Regions from separate parts of the Homo sapiens genome. Here region 1 is linked to region 2. A link means that fine-mapping ties the variant in region 2 to the expression of a gene that starts in the linked region. Tissue or cell type: whole blood. Region 2 holds a variant in brackets; the other region holds the start of a gene. All regions are shown on one strand. Distances are from middle to middle.

The links. PIP is the estimated chance that this variant, and not a neighbour inherited with it, causes the effect.
Region 1: it holds the start of GUCY1B1, and the variant in region 2 is fine-mapped to the expression of GUCY1B1 in whole blood (TOPMed, PIP above 0.99).

Annotation. Positions count from the first base shown.
Region 1 is chr4:155,753,010-155,763,398 of GRCh38, forward strand. It overlaps GUCY1B1 (guanylate cyclase 1 soluble subunit beta 1), which reads left to right and starts at 6,012. Exons shown (of 14, transcript NM_000857.5): 1 at 6,012-6,134; 2 at 6,778-6,851. The coding sequence starts at 6,132. LOC105377506 (a long non-coding RNA gene) reads right to left here and starts at 5,406. Exons shown (of 8, transcript XR_007058484.1): 1 at 5,181-5,406. RefSeq lists silencers at 6,190-6,339, 6,790-7,059.
Region 2 is chr4:155,653,906-155,664,294 of GRCh38, forward strand. No RefSeq gene overlaps it. Among named protein-coding and RNA genes, the nearest start is that of GUCY1A1, 7.7 kb to the right of the region's middle. The variant G/T (reference allele first, on the strand shown) is at 5,028.

The sequences.
Region 1 (10,389 bases), 99 kb after region 2:
TAAATACACTCAATGCAATTCTTTTGCTTCAAATGTCAATAAAACTTAGTAAGATTTTAATACATTAGCATAAGCTAATTTTAACTTTTTATGTTGCTGATGAAGCACCCATTCAGGAAAAAAAAAGCTCATGCTTTATGTAAACATATTAATGGACAATTTATCTCCTTTTCATTATTTTTACTCATGCTATATTTGTTAGAAAACTGATAATATAGTTGTATGTTATGAATCTAGTTAGATTTGGATTTTATTTTCAACAACAACAACAACAACAAAACCAGTAATCTGAACATGAAAAGTCGATGTAGGCAAGAGATTTTCTTGCAGATTGTCAGTTGTCACTCAATGTTTCATATGTGAGTCCTTGGCTTATTGTTACTAACTCCAAACAATCGGTAACAGAGTTATGTAGTCCTTTAAATTTTACAAGAAGCTTTCGAAGATGTCTCATTTGATCCTCTTAGTATCTTAGTTGAGCAAGGTGGGCCAGGCAATGCTATCACCATTATAAAATGGGAAGTTCCAGGCTCAGACAGGTTGAATTGCCAAGCAAGTAACTGACAAGGGTGATCTAGATCTTTTAGTTTGACATGGTGCAGCTCTTTTCACTATGCATTCACTGTCAGTGGACATATTACATTTATATAAGGTGGACAAAAGGGGTTTAGTTTCATTAATCATTGACTTCAAACACAGCAATAACAACCACCACCTCAAAAACAATATTAACTAACAGTTTGTGAGGACTTAACATTTTGCAATCATTGCTTTAAGCATCACACTTGCAAACCTGTGGGGTAGGTAATATTTTTAACCTTCTCAGCACTGGAGTATATTGATCTGTTATTTTTCCTGTTTTACAAGTGAGGAAACTGTAGTTCAAATACATTAAGTAATTTGTCCAATGGTTGAAAACAGGCAGTCTGACTAAAGAATCTGTACAATTAACTCCTACACTAAACTGTCCCCATAGCTAATTTTTGTTTTTTAAATCAAATAAAGTTACAAAAAGAAGCAACCAAATATTTTAATTAGTGGCTCTTATTCCCTGCTATTTTCTATTTATATCTATAATAATAAGTAGTTTCAACATAGACTAGAGAAGAACATTATTTTAATATAGTATCTAGAGGCTTTTGAGAGTTATGGACAGCTTTTGAAATCTAGATTCCAACTTCCACTGGGCGAGACTATGGGAAAGAAAGTATATTTAGCTCTACTTTGATGGGAATCTTAATATCCTCCACACTTTCTGAGGACAACAATTCATAACTTTACTAATTATACTTCTTGGCTAAGATTTTAAGTTTTCACTGTTCCCCAACAAGTTCATAAAGAGATTTCCAGATATAGGAAAATATCATTGACTAAATGACCTCCAAAATACCTTTCAGTGCTCAAAGTCAATCAATCTTTGACATAATCATGTTAGATCTATCCTTAATAAACTAAAGAAAAAGATTAAGATAATCTCTCCCAGCCATGTACAAGCTTAGGCTGTAAAGAAGATGAAAACAAGTTAGTTTTTATTTTAATCAATTTGACTTCAGAAGCAAAACTTTATAGCTCAATCTGGTATTCATAAGCTTTTCTTGAAAATGAAACATATTTTTATTTAATTTCATATACTCCCAGTATGTTATAGTGATGTGTTGATTTAACTTAATGCTTTTACTTATTATAACATTGATACTAAGCATCATCTTTAATTCTCTTTTAATTTCTTTTAATTTTCATACATAATTGTTTAAACCTTATAAATAAATGGATATACATATATATGTATGCATGACTAATGTTTTTTGTTTATAAGTTCTGATGGCAAGGTAAATATTAAAAGAATTTGATGTAGAAAAAAGTAATTTAAAAAGTGCTTCTTTTAATATTCAATACTACCTTTTTCATATGACAAAACTTACAGTTCATTGGCAAGTTAACAATAAATCTGAATGTCACTTCTTTAGGAATCTGAATTCTTGGATCTCTCTTTGTTCTATTGATCTAGAATCACATCACCGAATGTGTCATTTAGAATTTGCTTTTCTCTTTGCTTGTAAGTATTCTGAATTCCTTGCTTGAAGTATTGAGTGACTATATTAGCAAAAATAATGACAACAGATGTGATTATTGTGCGACTAACCAAGACCAGCAGCAGAAGCTTCACAAAGAATCAATATTCGGCTCTTAGCCACAGAGATTAAAGAGGCACATGAATATAAAGCAAATCATTGTATAAGAAATAGTTGAAATGAAATGACATGCTGCTCCATAAAATGATCTAAAAATGGAAGCCACAGAAAAAACTGGCAAAACACCAGAGCTTTGACAAACACATGCACAGACCTGGGAACACCCCCAAATATATATGTATCTTCCTTTATCCTTAATCAAAGGTTTCTAATTTTCACATTAACTAGCAAAGCCTTGAAAACAATGATTACAACACTTTATTTATTTATTTATTTTTGAGACGGAGTCTCGCTCTGTCACTCAGGCTGGAGTGCAGTGGCGCAATCTGGGCTCACTGCAAGCTCCGCCTCCCAGGTTCACGCCATTCTTCTGCCTCAGCCTCCCAAGTAGCTGGGACTACAGGAGACCGCCACCACGCCCAGCCAATTTTTTGTTATTTTTAGTAGAGACGGGGTTTCACCGTGTTAGCCTGGATGGTCTCGATCTCCTGACCTCGTGATCCACCCGCCTCGGCCTCCCAAAGTGCTGGGATTACAGGCGTGAGCCACCGCGCCCGGCCGATTACAATACTTTTAATACTTAACTTACCAAAGTAATTTATTTTTATTCGCTGAAAATGTGAGTCACTTCAGCTGACATTTCTGAAAGCCACATATTGCCTTTTTACTTATTGTTCATTCATTAGACTGAACTTCATGTTGATTTTAGGGCTGGCTAAGCCATTCCCTAAGCTCTTCTTTTTCATCTTTAACTGATCCTCCTCAGCTTGGGGCATACATACAAGAATGCAATGCATTGTTCAGAGAATATAGCATAATCTACTTCCTGATATGATTCCTATGCTACTTGGCCAGCAGTGATGACAACAGGTAGGGAGCTTTTATAGAAGAATGGTGACCCCTCTTTTGAGATCCTCTACAGCTGGCAGGCATCCTTCTGTCCCTGAACATCACAGCCTGTGTAATATCTTGTAGGCCAAACAAAAGTCAGTAAATGTTTAGTGTCTAGAACTTCTTTTAGATTCAGAATGAATATAAGACAATTGGAAAATAAAACAGTAAAAACATTTACAAATGCAAAAATGTGTTGGACAAAAACAACAACAAGTGCAAAAAGTTATTGGACAAAAGGGAAAGTGAGGGTAGAAGAACTGAAATAGAGAGAAAGAGACAGAGAGAAAGGGACATTGGCAGAAATGCTCATTATTCATTTCCTCTCATATCTTTCTCTAAGTGAGCTTTCCTCATTTTTCATTCCCAGAGAACAATTCAATCTCCTTATCTTTTGCCTATGTAAAGTTTAAGGTGGAGGACACCACAACACACCGTAAACCAGAGAGCATGGGTCCATTGCTGCTCAAAGGTGAACAGATAAGAGACATAGTTTTTTTTTTTAAGTTTTTTTAGCAAGTTAAAAGTTATTTTATGTATATTATTAAAAAGTCAAATAACAACAGATTCTGGCAAGGTTATAGAGAAAAGGGAACTCTTATATAGTGCTGGTGAGAATGTAAATTAGTTCAGCCATTGTGGAAAGCAGTTTGGTGATTTCGCAAAGAACTTAAAACAGAAACATCATTTGACCCAGCAATCTCATTATTGAGTATATACCCAAAGGAGTATAAATCATTCTACCATAAAGGCACATGCATGCATATACGTTCATCACAGCACTAGTCACATGGAATGAAATAAACTATTCACAAAATGAATACTTGTGAATATATGTGAATTAATATGTGAATTCACTATATGCAAAGACATGGACTCAATCTAGATGTCCATCAGTGGTAGACTGGATAGAGAATGTGGTACATATATACCATGGAATACTATGCAGACATCAAAAAGAATGAGATCATGTCCTTTGCATCAACATGGACGGAGCTGGAGACTATTATCCTATGTAAATTAACAGAAACAGAAAACCAAATACCACATGTTCTCACTTGCAAGTGGGAGCTAAACACGGAGTACACATGAACACAAAGAAGGGGACAATGACCACTGGGGCCTACTTGAGGATGGAAGGTGGGAAGAGGGTGAGGATCAAAAAACTATTTGTTGGGTACCATGCTTAGTGCTTGGGTGACAAAGTAATCTGTACACCAAACCCCCAAGACATGTAATTGGCCTATATAACAAACCTGCATATGTGCCCCTGAAACTAAAATAAAAGTTAAAAAAAATTCAGTTATGTAACAGTAAAGAAAATTCATCTGTGTAGAAAAATAATCAAAAGATACAGAAAGTTATAAAAAGTAAGAGTCATGGCCATTCCAGCCACTGGTTCTAATTACAGACGATAGCCATATCAACACTTCCTGTGTTTCCTCCCAAACCATTATTCTTACAGCAACATGTATGTGCCTGTGTTATTACCCACATAGCACCTTACTGTATACTAACTCTAAAAAATGGAAAATGATTACATTCTTGTGGTGTTTTGTAAACCTGACAATACTTTTCTGCATCATCATTTTCTAGTCACCCTCCTGCTTTTTCATGGTTGTTTAATGTGCCATTTTAATGGTTCAAAATTAGTGGTTAATTGTTGTTAAATAATGATTAATGTTTTAATAGTTGTTTAAAACAAGGTGTTAGATTGTATGAAAGGCTGTAATCTATTTACTCATTCCACCAATAATGGAAATTTTTAAAGTAATTTGTTGTTTTGTTTGTTTGCTACATGCCACTATTTCTGTATCAGTTTCCTTCATCATAGCTCTCTCGGTGCTGATGTCAGCACAATCTTATTGTTTTGACATTTTTCTCTAACCATATTGAGACTGTTCTCACAACAAAATATGCACATCTTAAAATACCATCTGGCTTCTCAGGTCCACTTGAGACTGGTGACCTCACTTTTGACCTTGCCCTAAAAGTCAACTGGAGTCCATATACCTCAGGTACAAACAGCTTTAATAAGCTGCCACTTCCTGTTCCTCTCATCTTCTCTCTATGGCAGGACTCAGAGCATTAACTAACCTAAGGGCCTGGTAGAATGTAAGCTGGAGGTAGAGTAGTTAAAGTCTGTGCATTTTGTACTGGTCATTTTCCAGTTCGTCTGTTGCTAAGAAACAGCAACAGAGGCCCGCTCTAGAGGGTTACAAACTCCCTGGAATTATGGCTCCCGGACATGGTGTAGGGAAAGGTGTCCCACAGGGATCAAGCCTAGAATATCGCTGGATCTTGTACAGTTTAGTAAAGGGCAGGACTGGATTTAACATAACGTCCACCAAACTACATTACTGAAAATTTTTGGTGCTTCACTCAACTAGTCTCATTGACTAGAAGTGAAAATATGTTTTTCTCAATATTACCAGCTTTAAATTTGCCATAAACTGTTGTGGGACCAAGCCACAGAGGAAATGTTTTTCCGCTAGACAAAGATAAGCATGAGGATGCCAGCAACAGAGGATATTCCTTTTAAGGTCTGTCCATTGCAAAGTACACACGTACACGCTCACACAACAAACACGCCCTGTTCCCTTTTGCTTGTGTTAACCACTGAGGGCAGATCTCTGAATAATAATACATTTAGTGGGTCCACAAGAGCTGCATTTCCTCTGCTCCAGAATTCATGCAAGGAGCACGGCTGGGGCTTCTCCACTGTCATTGTTATGGCCTCAAATGAAGGCCTTGTCACCAGGCGGGGGCGGGAAGGCACTGGAGCGCAGCAGCATTGAGAGCATCCGAATTCCCTCCTCTGTCCCTGATTGGTTGAAGAACTGGGGAGCACCGACCAGCCCCCTGCGGCTCGACTCGCCATTGGCTGGGAAGAGGTGGCAATCAGGGCGGGCCAAGGCGGCTGTTCTCGCTCCAGCTCGATGCTGCCTCCCCGGCCCGGTTGCGCTGTAGCCGCTGCCGCCTCTGCCTGGGTCCCTTCGGCCGTACCTCTGCGTGGGGGCTGCCTCCCCGGCTCCCGGTGCAGACACCATGGTAAGTGCTCTCAGCCGGGTGCGGCCCGAACCTCACCCCTCCTCGGCCGGCCTGGCAGCGAGGGAACTGGCCGCGCAGCCGGAGCTTGGCTCGGGGGCCCTGGGCGCTCACTGCCGGCCACGGGAGCAGCCTCACTCCTTGCCCGCGCCCAGTCAGGGGAGGTGGGAACGCCGCGAGTCGTGGCGGGGGCGATCGGTGCCTTTGCTTCCCAGGCGGGTTTGCCGCTCCACACCGCAGCTTCCTGAGCTCGGGAAGGGGAGGTGCGGCGGAGGCGTGGGGTCTTCCCGGCTCTGGCCGGCCCCACCAGTGTGGGAGGCTGAGCGCCAGCGGAAGGGAAGGCTCCGGGTTCGCGTCCCCGCGCTGCCCCCGATGCCCAGCCTCTCCCGGAGCGGTGACAGGTGAGGAGGGTGGGAAGATAGCGTGGGGGTGGGGCGGATGGTGACGGGGAGAATCCACCAGGGATTGGGGGGTTGCGCCCCCACGATCCGACTCCTTTAGTGCATAGTACCCCTAAGGGAGAGGAGTCAGGGGCGGGGTGAAAGGTTAAGCCAGCGCCATGGGAGCAGAGGCAGCAGCCTCGCCCCCAAGCCGCTTCTCAGGTACAGCGGGTCCCTGACGCTCAAGTCTCTCCCTGTCCCCGCAGTACGGATTTGTGAATCACGCCCTGGAGTTGCTGGTGATCCGCAATTACGGCCCCGAGGTGTGGGAAGACATCAAGTAAGTGGCCGGCTACCCTGGCTGTGGCCCAGGTCGGCGCCCAGTGTGGGAGGCCCCCCGCGCCTCGCCTGGTCCTCAGCCTGCTGGCCGGGTCGCGGGCGCGCATCCTTGGAGGTGCCTCCGCGCCTCGCTCCCGGCTCGCTGCAGCTGCGCTCCCACGCTCCGGGACTGGAACCAGGAGGGGAGGGGCGGCTGGGGCGGGGCTGCGAGGGCGAGAACCGCGGAAAGGAGCCCCTAGGGGTCACCACGGCTTCCCGACCCGGCCTGAGCGTGGGAACGCGCTGCCGGCGCTCCCAGGCTCAGCAGGCCGGGCAGCTCCCACGCGTGCAGAGCCCCGAGGGACCACACGGGCCTCCGCGAGGTTCCTGCGCCCGGAGGCCTTAGAAACAAACGGAAGACTTTGGCTCCTTTATGATTTACACACCTGGCGTAAGTTAGGCCTTTTTGGTATGCTGAAACACGCGGGAGATTATTTCTTGAGCAACAGTGAATTAAGCGCATTTATTCATTTTTAAATAAAGTGAAAATTGGAAGTTTTTTGTTTTCCCCAAATCCCACTGCCCACCCCCCCCGCCCCAACCCCTATCCCCCGTTTTTTTCTACTGTGTTGAAGACTTAACAGTTCTAGGAGGCATTCTACTTTCAGTCCTGGAGCTTTGAGCCCAGTACTGGGGATGTGAACGGAAATACCACACCCACCTGAGAGTTTAAACCTGTTGGAATGACTGATGGGTCAGCATGTCTGCAGGCAGGTTGACTATTTCACTCTAATAAAGTTGTCTCTCCTTTTTCCTCTCACTCTCAAAAAATTTGCATTTAACTTATGGTACAGCTGACCACCACCAACTAGCTACTCCAAAACCCTATTTATGGATTTTCATATTAGAGCAACAGTCAGACTATCACATTGTAACAAAGGTGGAAGGAAGGGTTTCCTGGGTGGGCAGATGGGAATACACTGTTATTATTCACTCTGATTTCCTGTACTTAGTGATTTCATTTTGTTGTCTCAGGTAGGTGAGGCTTCCATGCTGTTTTTCCCTAAGCACATTACAATTATTAGCAATCAATTCTAACAGGCCTTATTATGCAGTTACATGATGGTGATTTCTCATAACGATCTGTTTCCATAGAAATGACCAGGGTTATATATTAAGCACGAAAATGTAACTTTTCTTTCCCCTGGATCTGTATCACTGAGCGTTTCTTTCATGTTTCAGAAACCATTTGTATTATCCACAGGGCATATTACCTACATATTATAAACAGAAGCCGAGATTTGGCAAGTATGTGGTTGAATCCAATGAGAACATAGGCACCAAAAGTTACTTTAGGATTTGAATTTTCTGGCCATCTTAATACCATTATAATTTTTATTTTGCTTAGTAGACAGATATCAACAAGGCAGACATCAAAAAAAGATTGTTAACAGTATAACTTAACTACCGAATTATTTTTAAGCCACTTCCTTTGTAAATTTATAAATGCTATATATATATATATTCTCCATATGATGCTTTTGCATCTGTAAGATAGAAATTCCCAAATTTGCTGGTAGATATGCTATGACAATGAATATGCTTAGAATTTTTAGAGCAGAATAAAAGATGGCTATTATGATTAAACAGTCATTATGTAATTTAACCAGATTTAGATTGTATATCCTAGCCATTATCAGTTTAGATCACTGTTAAATACAGAGATGAAAAATAATACTTTATAGAGTAATGTATCAGACATTTTAAAAAGTTAAAATTATCCAGAGATTTGTTTATATTGCTTATATTTTCCCAGAGGAAGTCCAAATATGTAAAGATTCAATTGACGAGAATTTAACTCTGCAAAATCAAGCTGAGAATATTGTTCCATTCTACTTTAAAAAATTATTTATTAACTTACTAATTTATCTTTAAGTAGCTTCCAACAGTATTCATAATTTGTCTAAAGGATAAAAATTCCAATCATCCACAACACAATTTTTCTGGTAAAAATGAAACAAGTTATATTGGTCTTTTCTTAAATAAAATTGCCTCAAGGTTATGCCCCTGCAAGGGAAAAAGTGTTAGTCACACTGGTGTTGGTAATCCAGGTGTTAGTGTTGATTCTTTATTTGTCTAAGCATCTTTTGGTGGACCCCAGCTGATCTTGGGTGTGGTTTAGTGTCTGGGCTAGAGAACATGGTTGAACTCTCTGCACTGAGGGCATTAAAGCTGCTCCTTGGTTTCCAACCCAATACCCCTGAGTAATTACTAAATGCTCCCTGGGAGAGCATTTGCTTTCCACAGAAAAGAATCTTGCTGCCTGGGGAGAGGGGAGGAGAACCTGGAGGAGTGTAATTGAAAAATGCTCCTTGGGTGATTCTGGTTCCTCCTCCCCTCCCTACCCTCTGCTTCAGGGAATATTAAAGCAGTCATTGGTCCAAGATGCTTTCAGTTTTAACTTTTATAAGAAATTGAATATAAGAGGAAAAACATTTTTTTTTGTCTCAGTAAGTACCAAACTCTTATTTTTTCTTTTGGTCTTTGAGAAACTATCTAAATTGATGTTTATACAAATTTACATTATACTTTTTTGCTTCACTAGGAAATGGCCATCCATCCTTCATGAGAAAGGATGGGAAAAGATGCCAAACATTTAATGACAAATAAAACCCTAAGTAACAGATTCCAGACAGCAGACAGAAAATTCTAAGTGGATAAGGGCCAAAAATGCTTCATTGTAAACTCAGTATCCACTTACACTCTTACCAACAATATAACCATTTCACAAAAGCTTTGAATTCCTCTTAAGAAGAAGAAAAATTGTCTAGACCAAGGGCCAGCAAACTTTCTCTTAAAGGGCCAGATAGTAAATGTTTTAGGTGTTACAGGCCAAGGTAAAACTGAGGATATTATGTAGGAATCAATATAACTATTAAAAATATAACCACTTAAAAATATTAAAACCATTGTTAGCTCTTGGACCAGGAAAACGCAAACAAACAACCAAACCAGACAAAGTGGGCTACATGTGATCCATGGGCTATAGTTTGATGACCTCTGATTTAGACCATAACAAATGTGAAAAAGCAAAAGAGACCTCTGAATCCATTTCAAAGTTTTTTTTGTTGATTTCATTTCAATATTCAAATAGTCCTTTTAAGAGGCTATGATTTCTAAGTAATGACAAAAAAATTATCAGGGTAGAAAATAAATAAAGTTAGGAGTGATACATCCTAGAAAAGCACCTAAATACTTGATTTCCCATCTCTGTTATCCTTCCATCAGCCCTGACTAAACTCATCATTGCGTCAAATTACTGGGTTTAATTTTAGATTTTTTCTCTGCTTTCTTTCCATATTTTTTCTGGGTAGCAGCGGAGGGAAGCAGTTAGAGACAGGTCTTGCTGTGTGCCCAAGCTGGTCTCAAACTCCTGTCATCAAGTGATCCTCTTGACTCGGCCTCCCAAAGTATTGGATTATATGCACCACCACACCCAGCCCAACTTTAGATTTTTTAACCTCACTGAAACATACAAATTAGGAAGATAGATCCAAAAC
Region 2 (10,389 bases):
ATATGCTTCTTCTTGAATTAATGTTCCTAATAGTCACTGTTGCTTGAACTGCTCTTCCCCTCTGAAAGAGATGTGTTAAAAAAAAAGTGTACAAAGTCTGTGTATTTATTCTGTATAGTTGAAAGAATGTCTATTGGAAGAATTGTCTACCTGTGAAAAGATTGAATGATAAGACAAGTTTTACCCTATAAATCCTTTTTTCTTTTTTTATTTACTCATCTTAACTCCAAAAATAAAACAAACATTATTTGCAGAAGGAAAGCAGATAGCTAATGAGATAAAAATGTTCCCTCCGCTTCAGTGTGGTTAAAGTAGGTAATATCATCAGATAGCTCATTAAAAGTGCCTGGACATTGGCCATTTACTTTCCATGGCCTGTAGGCTCTAAATATTGTTCTGTAAAAGGGATACAAGTAAGATTGGAAGTCCAATACAAGTAAGATTGGAAGTAAGTCTGTTCTTACATGTTTCATCTCTGACTTACATGACAAACTTCAAGGATAGCAGATATGAAATATTTGGGGCTTCTTAATAGTATTTGTTGAATTATCAAAATGCACAAAACTACAATTAAAGTTTATTGATACAGTCATGTTTTCTTATAAGCTTTTTCCTTGTCTTCTTGGTTCCCTTTATTCTAATACCTAACTTAATTATGTGTGGATTTTAAGAAGTTCTTAATTTTTGTGTTTACGTTCATTGTTGGTATTGTTTGACAGGTTACTATTACAGTAAGAATTTTACTCTTTTCCTCCTAAAACACATCATGAGACTTTAAAAAGAATCGGAATCAAGCGAAAAACATCTGATTTTCTGAAATTTGAAGATACCAATCTTAGAAAACTTTAGTAAATACAATCATACCCTCATACCCTATTCTCTAGTCACCAAATCACTCCTCACCCTTCCCTTCCACACATTCAACAAATCTTAACATTAGAAACTCCTAATCTGCATCAGTCACTATGCTGGCACTCTGTATGACTTCACACATTTAGCCTCTCTGAGCTTCAATTTCCTAATCTGTAAAATTGGACTATTTATACTTCTATTTGGAAAATTACTAGACAGCACAGAATTCTCAATTGAAACATCAACTCTTCAAAATTATTCATGGCCCTTTATGAGTTCCCAAAGCACCCTCTGAGCATTTCTATATCATTTGTATCATTGTGCTGCAATTATTTTTCAAATTTCCTGTCCACCTCCAGACTGTGAAGTCCTGGGGAACCACGATTAGATCACAGTTTTAAAAAATCCCCAGTGGGCCAGGCTCGGTGACTCATGCCTGTAATCCCAGCACTTTGGGAGGCCGAGGTGGGCAGATCACGAGGTCAGGAGATGGAGACCATCCTGGCTAACAGGGTGAAACCCCGTTTCTACTAAAAATACAAAAAATCAGCTGGGCGTGGTGGCCGGCGCCTGTAGTCCCGGCTCCTAGGGAGGCTGAGGAATGAGAATGGCATGAACCTGGGAGACGGAGGTTGCAGTGAGCGGAGATCACACCACTGTACTCCAGCCTAGGCAACAGAGCGAGACTCTGTCTCAAAAAAATAAATAAATAAAATAAATTAAAAATAAATAAATCACCAGCGGTTAGGTTAACAAAGAATAAAATATAATTGAATCAAGTGAGGAAAGACTGAATAGATAAATTAATATCCATTCATGATATCCATATCATTTATTATATTAATTCATCTCATGGAAAGGTAGAATAAATATTTAAGTGTGTGAAGTTAATGAATATACAATATATTTGATTGAATTAATATTCATACCACTCGAATTAAACTTACCTAATCGAATCATAAAGAAATTGCAATAGAACTATGTTTCCTCTCAGTGCCAACTCTACCTCTCTGTGTTATTCATTATTTAGCCTGCTTTTTTTCTAATATTATCTCTCTATGCCTCAAACTTCTGGTTAATTATCTCAAAGCTGGGGGATTCATTTACAACTTAGATGGGAAAATTTAATAATCTGTAATAAATGTATGAACTAATTGGGCAAAAACAAACTTTTGCATTATTTGTGATAATAAATGTATTTTCAAACTTTGCTGCCGTGTCAGATTGCTGTTAGCAACTCTGCATCATTCTTGCCCCTTTGTAAACTTCCTTTTTCTCTATACTTTCTTTTGCAATGCAAGTAGGGAGCATGGAAAGGACAGTTCCCAGAATCCTCCACCAACAGGGTTTAATTTGGATTCAGAATTTATGTCAGATTTAGATGAAAGAGAACAGGAGAAGCACTGTTCTCCTCTGGCAGCAGAAGACACCTGCAGGGGCAGAGGACCTTGTTGAGATCTGTATCAACCTCATGCCTGCTGCAGGCAGCTGACATCCTCAAGGGTATGTTCCTCCTGGGATCCCTACATTCCTTCCCCAGGTCTTTCAGTAGTTCTATTAGCATCCCTTTCTGTTTGAAATGCGTAAAGTGATAGGTTTTCCAAACGAAAATGAAATCGGAGACAGTGGTTGTAACGAAACTTAAATATTTCATACTTGAGAGATTTAAGAAATAACAATCTATTGGCTGCACAGCTGACATTCCCTATTCTTCCTACCTTAACCACCTCCCAACAACCATCCTTCTCTGCTCTGTTTTTCTCCATAGCACATATTACCACCTGACATCCTAATATTTTATTTGTTAATCTTTTTAATCATCTGTTTTGTCATTGTGGAATGCCACAATAATAGGGATCCTTGCTTGTTCCCCAGTTTACAGAATAGTGCCTGGTTTATGATTGTTATTCAGTAAAAGTATTTGAATGAATGAATGAATGAATCTGACAAGAGTGTATTTTGCCTCTTTTTGAATGTCAGTCTACAGATAAAAGGGGGCTCTAATTATCACATGGAAAATCAGACCGTGCATACTTTAATTTTAAATAAGTCCTTGCCTTACCTGCCTAGCCCTCCAACTGCGTTCTTTCATTGTCCTATTATGATCACCATAATGCAAATAGTCTTAACTAGTTTGAAAAGGATGTTAATCAGCCCAACGCTGAGTACTTTTTGTCCATGGCTTCTCATTAAATTCTATTGTAATCTATGGTTTCTTGTAATTTAATCAAGATGAATTCAAAGTTGAGGTTCATAATTTTGATATTTCAGGTGCATAATCTCACTATATGAGGAATGTCTTCAAATGAATTAGAAAAACACTAATACCTCAACCAAGGGCAAAGGACATCAACGGACAGTCAAAAAAATAGGGGGTTGTGGTAATAATAATGACTAAATAAACATGTAAGATATTTAAAATCACTTATGAAAGAAATACACTTTGAGATTCACTTTTAATGAAAAATATCAAACATAAATCTTAAAAATAATAGCAACCATGTAGTTCATTCTTTACACAAAACAGATAAGATTATAAATTGATTAAAATATTAAATGATCTGACTAGTGGTATTAGTCACAATTAAATAACTCATTCTCTGAAACCCAAACTCTTGGGAACATATCAAAGAAAAATGTAGGACATGTGGACTATTTACAAAGTTGTTCATCTGTTTTTAATTATGTGTTGCAAATAACTTCAGTTAGTTTGTAGCCCTTTGCTTTATTCTTTTTGAGGAAAGGAAATACTTAAAAGTTTATCACTCTATTTCTTTGTTTGTATTTGACCTAAACATGTTACATATTTGTTGTTTTTTTCCTCACTATTCTTTCTTGGCAGTTAGAACTCCTGATTGGAAATTGTTCTTTCTGTACTACATCTTTAGAAATTATTTTATAGGAGGTATGTTCGTTTTAAAATCTCAAAGATTAACTTCTTTCCATCCCCACCAACCATTTCTTCAAAGTCAATTTTCCTGAATATAAGATCCTAAGGACAGTAATTTATCTCTCAGCATTTCTCGCACTATGAAGATTGTTTTCTTCCACCTTTAATTATTTCTGTTATGCAATTAGCAAAGCTGATAGTCAGTCTAATTGTCATTCCACTGTAGGTGATCTGATTTTCTCTCTGGTTGCTTTTAAGATTTATTTATCTTTGTTTGGTCCTTTTACCAAATGTATTTGTAAGTGGATTTTTAGATATTTTAAAATGTATTTATCTTTCTTGGAAATTGTTGGGCTAAGCAGAGGATGGGTGACTGAACTAAATTCTGGAAACTCTTAACCACTATCATGTTGAATATTGCCTTGCCACTAAATTGCTATTCTCTCCTTATAGTACCTTTCAAATGTCTTAACCTATCCTTCATATTTTAATTCATCTTTTTGTCTAAATTCAGTATTATTTCTTTATATATATTTTCCAGTTCATTAATTTTCTCTTCAGTTTTATCTAATCTATTTAATACATTCATGAAACTTTATTTCTAATTATTGTGTTTTTAATTTCTGGGAGTTCTTTTTGGTTTTAGTTTCAAACTGGTCAAGTCATTTATTTGGTTTCTTTGTTATGCTACAAATACATTTTATTTAAATATATATATTAAACATATATTCTGTTTTGAATAATTTCTGCTTTTATAGTCCTTGTTGGTCTGATTTTAAATTCTTTAGTTCTGCTTTCTATGATTTATGGCAGCTTTTTTCCTCATGTATTTGATAACTTCCTTATTACAGACTTGTTTTCCCTGATACTTTATTTGTAGTGATTATTTGAAGCTTATCTTTAAAGTGTATTTTCCTAGTGAGAATTTATGTTTGCTTCTGCCTGGCTCCTGGGGCATTCTCAACACGGACCACTTCAAATACAGTTTCTGCCTGGGGATTTTCAAGCCACAGAGTTAGTATAAATTTCAAATAAAAGACTGTATAAGTAGAGGCTTGTGCTCAGAAATTTTCAGTAGAGATGTGTTTTTTCCCTGCTCCATTATCAGCCAATACTTAAAGAGACAAGGTACTTTGTGTGCAAACACTCTCCTTCCCCACCCAAGGCTATTATTAGTGTGGTGTCATTTTCAATTTGCACAACTAGTTTTGTTTTCTGTCTCCCCTGCACATGTCACCCGATAACCTAGGCTCTAAGCCCACCAGTTATAAGTAGGTGACCTCAG[G/T]GCAATTGCCAGACACCATGCTTGCTTACCAATGGCACCCTTTCTCCTTGTTTCTGGTCTCATCACATTACCTTTTCTGAAGAGGCAGCCTGGTTAAGCCTTAAAAGCATATTTAAATTTTTATTCAGCCTGTCAGCTTTTCAGCACTAGGAAGGGTTTCTCTGCACATCTTCCATAGTGTTGGAAAGGGAAAGCTCCTTGCATTAATGTTACAATGAGACCAAAATAGAATACTCTAAAAAGTAATAAGAAAGAGATTTGGTAAGACATTATTTCTCTTAGGTAATATTGTCAACTGTTTAAACAAAGTATTTTATAAATATGAGAGCGGCAGCCATAGCTGTCATTTTCATAAAGTGAGATTTCAACAAGCCTGCCTCTGCATAATTTGCCTTTTCCCTATGTCAAAACAGAGTTCTCTTTACTTTCAGACTTGAATCAGTTCTTTTTTTAAGCCATGGCTCAGGATATGCCTTTTGGCCCTGTCTGGTGAGACTATCATTTAAGAGTATCTCAGTGTTTTTGGCTGCCTTTTACAGTTTTGAGATCTATGTGCTTCCCTTTTTCCAGGAGGAGAAGCAGGCATGAAACACACTTAGGAGCTAGGTTCAAAGAAAACATCTTGACTTCTAAGGCACAGTGAGAATCAAAAGCAAAACTCATACCCATTCATTAGATTTTTCGGATACAGTTACATTAGCTCATTAATACAAAACATCCCCAGTGAGTGGGTGTCCTGTGTGAGAATAAAGAAAATTTCCTGGGCTTATTTTTACAGGACAGCTTAATTGGTGGCATATGATTTTTCTCATACCATATTTTGTAGCTTTAAATTATGAAAGTATAATCTAAGAAGTAGAAAATGTTTTATCTCTTACAATACTTTTAAAGAGAGGGCACTTTAGCAAATAAAGTCTACTTTTTTAAAAAAAGTTCTTTGAAAGTTTACAAACTTTTTTTTATACAGATGACTCTCTCCTAAAGATCAGAAGCTCATATTACTTTTGAATATTTCTTCAAATATAAGGGCTCATGCTCATAGTCTCCACAATGAAAAAAAAACCTCATCTATAATAATTTTGAGTAAATGTGCCCTTCTAAATGTGATTGATGTTCTATTAAGGCTGTTTTTTTTTAACTCTGTTTTAACTCAGCTATGCAAGACCTCCTGAACTAGCAGACAGCCATATGGTTGAGCAAGATGCTTTGGAGCTTCAACTTCAGGAGCTTTTGGGTTGTTTACATGTCCAGTGTCTAAAAATAGAAGATGTTAAAAATTTTCAACTCTCTGTGAAAGGCTTTCATTTAATCAACAATTATTTTTGAATAGGTTTTGCCATGAAAGGAAGCAAGAATAAGACAACTTTTGTGACATTTGAAGAATTGGAAAAAAATCACCTAAGTATATTTTCCTGAATATTTCCTTTTATAAGTAACTTCATTGGATATATTTCCAATGCTTTGCTGACCTTCAGTCAAGTTTCTCTCTCCTTCCCTTCCTCTCTCCCTCCCTCCCCTTCTTCCCTCCTTTTCTACAAACGCATAATTAAATGAAAACACAAGACATCTATGTAGTTAGCCATTCTACTAGGAAATCAAGCTATTGAAACTCATATTCTCCACTAGTCACTTGGTAGCTGAAACTAATGTTAAGCAAAGACATCAAGAGATCAGTTTGATGTGCTAATATTGAAAACTCAAGCCTATTACATAATGGCATCACCAGAGGGCAAACACCCAAAGGCTTCTTCAATAAGATTACAACCTTGACATTTTTAGTATTCGTGTGATCCTCAACTCTCAGAATGATCTACAGATGCTTGTTAAAATACAGGTTTCTGGAGCCTACTCAAAGAATATGACTTAATAAATCTGAGCTGGTGATCTTTATTTTGATAATTCACAAGCTCCTTTCAGAGTAACCAGAATTATTAATACCCCAGGCTTATGAACCAGATTGCCTGAGTTTGAGTCCTAATTTTGCCACTTCCTAGCTGTGTGATTTTAGGAAAGATGCTTAATCTCCCTATACCCCAATTTTCTCATCTGTAAAGCTGACATGATAATAATGCTCACCTTCAAAGGGATTTTAGGGGAAACAGATAATGTAATGCATACAAAGTGCTTAGAATAATGCCTGGTGGATAATTATCATCCTATTATGTTAACTTATGATTAACGATGATTCTCTCTTGACAATTAAAATGTTAGAACAACAGCAAAGAGATCATTCGTCCTTATTTTGATAATTCGTTTTGTTTGATTGGCACCTGGCATTAGTTTTCTATGTAAAAAAAAAATAGTAAAGTCAAAGACCCATAAAACACGGACTCTGTCTTCAAATGGCCAATGATTTTGGAAAGTCTAGAAATCTCATAAGAAGCAAGATAGCGAATGGGTACTAAGCTAGAGGAAAAAAACAATATTGAAAACAGAGTGTTGTTGAACCAACTTAGAATGAGAGCTTAACTACAGCTATCTTTCCATGGAATTTTTTTTAACACATCATTTCTTCATTTGGCTGAAGCTTTCTTTTGAAACTGATCAACTTTTTTGAGATATTTTGTGTTGAAATATCTTGAGTTATACTCAAAAACACCTTTGAACAAGTTTCATATTTATTTTGCAGTAGCCATTAACTCATTCATCTTACTTTTTTATATGACACTGTATCCACTCTATATTTTTTCAGTTTTCCAAAATCATTGAATTTGTAAGTTACCCCTATGGTAGAGTATTTTTGAAACAGCATTAAATATGTCAGGGCCTATAGGATACCATTTTGTTTTAATTCAAAGTGCATACAATTTATGGAATACTAGTGCCTATGTAATGATATCAGGGCTAACTATTGGCAACTAAAAGTCAGTATAACTATTATTTTAATATAAGTTAAACATATAGAGGCCTCCTGTATCTAGACATGTAGCAGGCTTTTCAAATATGAGAAATGATAAAATCTCTCAGACTTGCAAAGTAAAAAGACACGTTTACCATGACAAAAGATGACATAGCAAAATTTGCAATGTGGATAGGTTGAGGATTTCCCAGATAAAGTTCTGGTTCTTTTTCGGCTTAACAGTTCTTCCTTCAATCTTTCTCTGTTTTCTCACATTTTACAATAGCAAGAAGAAAGTAGGCTGTGCCTTCACCATTTTGCTTAGGAATCTTCTCAGTTAAATATCCAAGATCAATATTTCCACATATCTGTGAGACATAATTCGGCTAAGTTTTCTGCCACCATATACTGACATATTAGTCTGTTCTCACGCTGCTAATAAAGACATACCTGAGGCTGGGTAATTTTTCAAGAAAAAGAGGTTTAAGGGACTCACAGTTCCACATGGCTGGGGAAGGCCTCACAATCATGGCGGAAGGTGAAGGAGGAGCAAAACCACGTCTTATGTGGCAACAAGCAAGACAAGTTGTGCAGGGGAACTCCCGTTTATAAAACCATTATATCTCGTGAGACTTATTCACTACCAGGAGAACAGTACGGGGAAAATTGCCCCCATGATTCAATTATCTCCACCTGGCCCTGCCTTTGACATGTGAGGATTGTTAAAATTCGAAGTGAGATTTGAGTGGGGACACAGCCAAACCATATCAACTGATGATCTCCTTTCCTACAACTTCCAATAACACTTTCCTCATTTCCACCTGTATCCTGTTCGTAGCACTTTTAATGTCCATATTTGTACCAGCAGTCTGTTCATGATGATTTATGATGATTTATGTATTCCCTAAGATGATACAGATTTTCTCTACCATGCCTCTCACTTTCTTCTGAGGCCTCACTAGCAGAGTTAGCATCCATGTTTCTACTAACAATGTGTTCAAGGCAATCTAGGTTTTTATTTTATTTTATTTTTTATTATTATACTTTAAGTTCTAGGATACATGTACACAACGTGCAGATTTGTTACATATGTATATATGTGCCATGTTGGTGTGCTGCACCCATTAACTCATCATTTACATTAGGTATATCTCCTAATGCTATCCCTCCCCCATCCCCCCACCCTGCAATCTAGGTTTTTAAAATGCTGGCTACACACAATTCTTCCAGCCTTTGCCATTGTCCAATACCAAAGACACTTTGACATTTAGTTTCCTATTACTATTGTAACAAATTACCCCCGAACTTAGTGCTTAATACAACACACGTTTATTATCTTACATCTGTGGAAGTCTGAAGTTTGAAATGAGTCTCATTAGACTAAAACCTAGGTGATGGCAGGGCTACTTTCTGTCCCAGAGACTCTAAGGGAGGATAATTTTCTAGCCTTATTCATCTTCTAGAGGCTGCACATATTCCTTGGCTAAGCCCCTTCTATTTTCTTTTCTTTTCTACTTTTTTTTTGTTTTGAGACGGAGTCTCGCTCTTCTCGCCCAGGCTGGAGTGCAATGGCGTGATCTCGGCTCACTGCAACCTCCACCTCCCAGGTTCAAGCAATTCTCCTGCCCCAGCCTCCCGAGTAGCTGGGATTACAGGCACCTGCCACCATGCCCAGCTAATTTTTTGTATTTTTAGTAGAGACAGGGTTTCACCATATTGGTCAGGCTGGTCTCGAACTCCTGACCTCAAGTGATCCACCCGCATCCGCCTCCCAAAGTGCTGGGATTACAGGTGTCAGCCACTGCACCCAGCCCCCTTTCTATTTTCAAAGCCAGCAATTGCTTATCAATTCTTTCTAACATAGCATCACTCCGACTCTGACTGACTCTATTGCTTTAATCTTTCTTTTACAAGGACCCTTTTGATTGCATTTGGTTCACCCACCTAATCTGGAATAATATTCCCATCTCAAGACTAGCTGATTAGTAACCCTAATTCTATCTGCATCCTTACTTCTCTCTTGCCATGTAAAATTGCATATTCACAGGTTCTAAGGATTAGCAGGTAGACATCTTTGGAGTGCCATTATTCTACCTACCACTGTATTTACTGCTCACAAACACCAACTCCTTGGCAAAAATATAGTGGACAGCATTTCTGTTACCATCAGAATCTCTTCCAGTCCAGGCTGCTTTGTGAATGTCTATACCAGGACTAGAAATGCGTGGACGCCAACCTAATAAGATCTAGTTTTTCTAACTAAAGCTTTACATTCATACAAAAGAGACATTTTGGAGTCTTTGCATCATCTTACTGCAAGTTACCAGTGTAAACTTTAACCAGGTACATTAAAACAAATTGAAAATGAATAATACTAAGAAAAGGAGGAAATAAGGAGCCAGAAGTTTATCTTATTTTTCTTATATTTGAGAGGTTATCCTAATTTGGTAAACCATACAATCCATAGTTTGTTCGTTTGCTAAAAATAAAACAAAGCTCTGACCCTGACATATATGTAACACT